Regions from separate parts of the Homo sapiens genome. Here region 1 is linked to region 2. Evidence: fine-mapped expression QTL. A gene starts in region 2. The other region holds a variant in brackets. All regions are shown on one strand. Distances are from middle to middle. Region 1 overlaps SCGB2B2 (secretoglobin family 2B member 2). Region 2 holds the start of SCGB2B2 (secretoglobin family 2B member 2).

Region 1 (2,906 bases), 78 kb before region 2:
TGGGTCAGGGCGTTTTCAAGAGCCATGTTAGGATAGAGAGTCCTGGAGAATGGAGTGAGGGGGCAGAGGGGGCAGAGAATGGAGGGGTCGGGGAGACTGCTCCCACTGCTTTCTGGCTTCTAAGTGGGGGTGATGGGTGGTAGGTGAGTGGCAGAGGGGTCAGCGGGGGCTGCAAGACTGAGCCAGGGAAGTGGAGGCAGCAAGAATGCAGGCCTTGCCTGAGGCTGACTCGGGGCTAGGAATTCTCAGAGGTCAGGGCCCTAGAGCTCCCGGACAGGGAGTTTGCAGGAACAGTGACGCAGCACATGCCACGGCACAACTTGACACAACACAACATGGCACAGCAGAGCAGTGTGCGGCACACTGGGCTGCAGCAGAGCGTGGAATGGGGTCTGTAGGGTCTAGGGAATTATGGAGCAAACCGACCTGAGCCGTGTCCCTCAGCCAAGGCACAGGCACTGGCCTTGAGCCACCCACTTCCTTGTGACAGCCTCATGCCCTGGCGTCCTTGGGGCTGAGGATAGGGCTGGGGCTGCTGTCCAAGGTGAGGTCACTAGAGGGGACTCTAATCCCCAGTTGTTTGAGGAACTTGGGCATCCTGCAGAGGATTTTTGGACACCTCAGCCAGGCTTTTGGGGTGGTGGGGTCTGGACCCAGGGGGAAAACCATGGGGCATGGCTTTGCTGGGATAGGGAGGGTAGGGGCAAGAGTGCAGCTGGGTGTGGCCCTGTAGGCACAGCATGTGGCATCTGCCAGTCCCCATTTCCTGCCTTGCTTCCAGCCTGTGCTGTGATGCAGGAATCACTTCCTTGTGACAGGTCCGTGCCCTGGCCTCTCTGTGGCTGAGACAGGGCTGGGGCTGGTGTCTAAGATGAAGTGTGACTCTAATCCCCTGCTTCTGATCCCCAGTTGTTTGGGGAACTTGAGCATCTTCCAGGGACCCAGTGGTGTAGATGGGACTCCTGGGCTGTTTAGTCAGGCCTCTTGCCCACGTGGCCACATTGGCTCCCACTCAAATCTGGCCTTGGGGCCTGCTTGGCCTCTGCTTACCAAGTCCTGTGGTTCTCTGCCAGGCACCATTGGCCCTGCGGCCAGGCTGGCACCTGGAGAATGGCCTGCCCCCAAATCCTGCACTCCTCCCAGCTCACCTGCTTTGCTTTTCTCCTGCACTGGGAATTGGGAGCTAGGTTGATACTGGGAGAGGAGCTCCCTCAACTGTAGGTTCACCTTAGAGTTCTGGGACAGGTTTTTG[A/C]GAGATGAGGCTTTCTAGAAGGGCCTGGAGCTGGTGAGCCTGCTGAGCAGGGAGTAGTCCCACAGCAGAGGGATCTATGGTGGAGGAGTGGGATGGGTGGGGAGGACGACCCAGCTGTGGAGGAGTTGGGGCAGGCAGGTCACATGGGTGCAGCTCGCCCTTTCTCCTTCTCCCCATCTGTATTAGTCTCTTTTCATGCTGCCAATAAAGACATACTTGAGACTCTGCAGTTTACAAAAGAAAGAGGTTTATTGGACTTAAAGTTCCACGTGGCTGGGGAGGCCTCACAATCACGGTGGAAGGTGAAAGGCATATCTCACATGGCGGCAGCAAGAGACAGAATGAGAGCCAAGCAAGACAGGTTTCCCCTTATCAAACCATCAGATCTCGTGAGACTTATTCACTACCATGAGAACAGTGTGGGGAAAATCCCTCATGAATCAATGATCTCTCACTAGGTGCCTCCCACACATGTGGGAATTATAGGCATACAATTCAAGATGAGATTTGGGTGGGGACACGGAGCCAAACCATATCACCATCCTCTCTTCCCTCCCTGTCCTCTCCTGTCTTTTCCTCCCCGCCCTGTTCTCTCCCTCTTCCCCCTGTTCCTCAGTCTTCCTGCCTCTCTTCTTCCTTCTCCATTTCTCCCCTTCTTCACTTCCCATTTCTCCCTTTCCCTCCTCCCCTGACCTCTAATCATCTTTTTATTGTGACATAGAACACAAGTATGGAGACGTACACACCATGTAAAGTGTATCTTAAGTGATTACTGTAATGCAAACCTCACAATGCGCCCTCCAGTTCAAGAAAGATCATTGTGAGCCCCTCAAGGCACCAGCCTCACCTCCTAGAGTAGACCACTGTCCTGATTTTATGGTTTTTTTTTATTATACTTTGTTTTAGGGTACATGTACACAACGTGCAGGTTTGTTACATATGTGCCATGTTGGTGTGCTGCACCCATTAACTTGTTGTTTCAGTGGATGGTTTTTCTACCTAAACATCTTCATATACAGTAAACGTTAATTTTGCTCTTTTACAATTTATATGGCTGGGATCGTAATGTGTCTGTTCTCCCGTATCTTACTTTTTTGTTCCCCATTGTTGTTGATATTCATCCATGTTGTTATCTCCATTGTTTAAGTCTACCCTGGTACACTGATTCTATTATCATGAACAACACTGTAGGGAGCTTTCATATGTTGATGTCTTGTACACGTTTATATTCACATTTGTTGGGGTTTGTGCCCATGTGTGGAATTTTAGGTGATAAGGCATTCATATTCTTGACTATCCTAGGAAACAGGAAACCTTGAAAGCAGTTGTACAATGCACTTCCCCAGCCACACTGTAGTATTTCCTGCTGCTCTAGATTGCCACAATCTGGTATCGTCAGTGTTGTGTGAACCATCTGGTAGGTAGGTGTCAGGGGCATCTCACTGTGGTTTCCATTTGCATTTTCTGGTGTAATGAGGTTGAGGCCTCTTCATGTGTTTATTCGTCATTTAGTGAAATGTGAATGGAATCTTTCTTCCCATTTATATATTGCATGTTCTTTTCTATTTTTTCCACCTCTGACTGATTTGTAGGCGTTCTTTCTATATTCTTGGTAAGAGCCCTTGTTTGGTTAGTTGTTGAAAATGTCTTCCCC
Region 2 (2,878 bases):
TTACAGAGTGCTGTTTGGTCCGTTTTTACAGAGTGCTGACTGGTGCATTTACAAACCTTTAGCTAGACACAGAGCACTGATTGGTGTATTTACAATCCTTCAGCTATACAGAAAAGTTCTCCAAGGCCCCACCTGATCCAGAAGCCCAGCTGGCTTCACCTCTCGGTTATATGCTAATTATATGCATTAGCACGCTAAGAGAAACGCTCATCAGTGCCATGGCAATTTACAAATGCCATGGTAAGGTTCAGAAGTTACCCTGTATGGTTCAAAAAGCTGGGAAGCCCTCAGCTCCGAGAAATTGAAATTGCCCACCTCTTTCCTGGAAAACTCATGAATAATCCACCCTTGTTTAGCACATCATCAAGCAATAAATACAAGTATCCCTAGTCCAGCAGCCCAAGCTGCTGCTCTAACAATGGAGTACCCATTGTTTCTTTACTTTCTTAATACACTTGCTTTGGCTTTGCACTGTGCTCTCCCATGGATTTTTTCTTGCGTGAGCTCTAAGAACTCTCTCTTGGGGTCGGATCCGGACCCCTTTCTGGTAACAGAAGCACTGCTTCACGAAGATCATGCAGGTCAGTACTTAATAAGTACAAAAAAGTCTATAGCGACACTATTTATAATTTTAAAAATGATTGAAGTCAATTAACATTTAAGTGTTAAAAAGAAAGTAAACAACCCAAATATACACAAACAGTAGACTGCTCTGGCTTGCATACAGAGAGGTCCATTGCCCTTTTGGGTGGGCCTAAGAAGCACTTCTGGGGAGAGGGGGCGTCAGGCTGTGATGGCTGCGGGAGGAGTGACTCCTCCCAGGATGAGGGTCTCCATCCTCCCAGTGCTCACTCAAGTTCAGTATTTCCAAGTCCTTCCAGGGGCGTAACGCACGTCAGAACGGCCATTAGTGTCACAGATACGTGTCCCCTTGCATTTCCAGGAAATGCCCTTGGTTGGCGAACTACAGTCGTGACAGTCGGGCCACAGGGCGTTTTGTGAGTTATCGTCTTGGGCAAATGAGTGCCAAAAAAAAAAAAAAAAAAAGACCTGAAGGTGAACAGCATAGCGGCAGGGTTTGGGATGAGAGGAGCCCCTTTGCTAGCAACGGCGAGCACTTGCGCGGTACCAGCAAGGGCTGCCCATGTCTCGGAGGGAAACGTTTGTGTGAGCGCAGGAATGACCCGGAAGACCTTGGCACGGCTGCAGTTTTCTGGGAAATGTAATTTCTTGGTCCGGGCGCCATGGCCCTTATAAGTAGAGGGTGTCCCTTGGTTTCGAGTTGTATCGTTCACCAGAGGACGACTGTGTGCCCCAGGACAATTTGCGCATGGTCCTAGCTGGCCGGCTCTAGGTCGACGGCCCCAGGCGGTTAAGCTACTTACAAAGCCGTGACCGGTTTGCCCGCGGCGCACCAGGTCCGCGCAGCCGCAGAGACCCTTGGGAAGTGTGGTCTTCGGGTGCCGGCGGTTCGCGGCTTCCGGGACATTTGTACCGCAGGGGGAGGATTCTGGGAAATGTGGTTCGCCGTGGGCGGTGCACTGGGTCAGTCCCGCGATAGCTTCAGGCCTGGCGGCGGCTTCCAAGCTAAGGAACGGTTTGGGGCAGTGTCGTTCCCGGAGGTCGGCCGCCGTTACCCGCTCACCAGCTACGCGGCGCGTCAGGTCCGCGGAGGCGCGGGCTCGGGGCGCCTGCGGGACGGTGAGGCCCTGCTGAGGACTCCGGCAAGTGTGGGTCGCGGCGACGGCGGGGCTAAGGCCCTGGGTCCGCGCGCGGTTTGACCACGGCCGGGGCCTTGGGCATTTCCTGGCCTTCCTGTTGAGCCGTGTAAACGCGGGGTGATGACGGCGCCGACCTCTTGGCACTGTTGTGAGAGCGAAGTGGGCGCGAGAGCAGACGCCAGCTACAGTTTTTTTTGGGTTATGTCGTCATGAAGCCGGCGCTTTCAGTTGTGCAACCTTGAACAAATGGGTTCAGTATCTCGGAATTTCAGTTTTGTCTTCATTTTAAAAAATAAATCTGGTTTAGAACTCGACCTCAAGCGATCCGCCCGCCTCCGCCTTCCGAAGTGCTGGGATTAAAGGCGTAAGCCACCGCACCAGCCTAACGAACATGGCGAAACGCCGTCTCTACTAAAAATACAAAAAAAAATTAGCTGGGCGTGGTGGCACGTGTCTATAATCCCAGCTATTCGAGAGGTTGAGGTAGGAGAATCGCTTCAACCCGGGAGGCAGAGGTTGCAGTGAGTCGAGGTCGCTCCATTGCACTCCAGCCTGGAGACAGAACGAGACTCCGTCTCAAAAAAAAAAAAAAAAAAATCTGGAATAATATGAATGCACACCTTGCAAAGTGGTGAAGACTGAACGAGCTGATAAAGTTGTTACCGTTGTTTTATGAGTCTTTTGTATACAGAATAATTGATTTTCCCCGCAGGTGGCACCTGGTAAATAGCCCTTGCGGAGAAACACCCTGTTCCTTCCCAGGGAGAGATTGACGCTCCGGCGAGTGATTACCAGTGTGCTTTTCCATTAAGGTGTGTGACAGGTGCCGCAAGATAAGCCCGATTTTTCATGACTGCTTTTTCCTGCCTTTCTGTGCCCTCAGGACACTGCCCATCTCTAAGATAAGAACCTGGAAAGGGGACTCTGTTGGCCATTGGAAATTGCAGAATAATGTCTCAGGTAAGTCGGTGTGTCCCCAAATCTTCCTGAAACACTTTATTAGGCCTCTGTGTGTTTGCTTTGCTTCTCCTGCCTGTTCCCACCTAATCAAGTCCATTTAAGGGACTAGATCTATGGTTCCTTTCACTATAGGAAGAATGGAGCCCACAGGAGAGCTCCAAGGTATTGTCCTCATCACCCAGTGTTCCTCTTTTCTA

What was found. PIP is the estimated chance that this variant, and not a neighbour inherited with it, causes the effect.
Region 1: its variant is the best candidate, but not a certain one, in a credible set for the expression of SCGB2B2 in pancreas (GTEx, PIP 0.69).

What each region holds. Positions count from the first base shown.
Region 1 is chr19:34,597,907-34,600,812 of GRCh38, forward strand. The region is part of intron 1 of SCGB2B2 (secretoglobin family 2B member 2); the gene reads right to left. It also overlaps the pseudogene ZNF807P and the pseudogene SCGB1B2P. Among named protein-coding and RNA genes, the nearest start is that of SCGB2B2, 78 kb to the right of the region's middle. The variant A/C (reference allele first, on the strand shown) is at 1,253.
Region 2 is chr19:34,676,133-34,679,010 of GRCh38, forward strand. SCGB2B2 (secretoglobin family 2B member 2) reads right to left here and starts at 1,027. Exons shown (of 4, transcript NM_001025591.4): 1 at 1-1,027. It overlaps ZNF302 (zinc finger protein 302), which reads left to right and starts at 1,546. Exons shown (of 5, transcript NM_001289187.2): 1 at 1,546-1,971; 2 at 2,605-2,681. The coding sequence starts at 2,673. It also overlaps the pseudogene ZNF807P and the pseudogene SCGB1B2P. RefSeq lists enhancers at 518-1,415, 1,075-1,174, 1,225-1,284, 1,416-2,312 and a silencer at 1,735-1,794.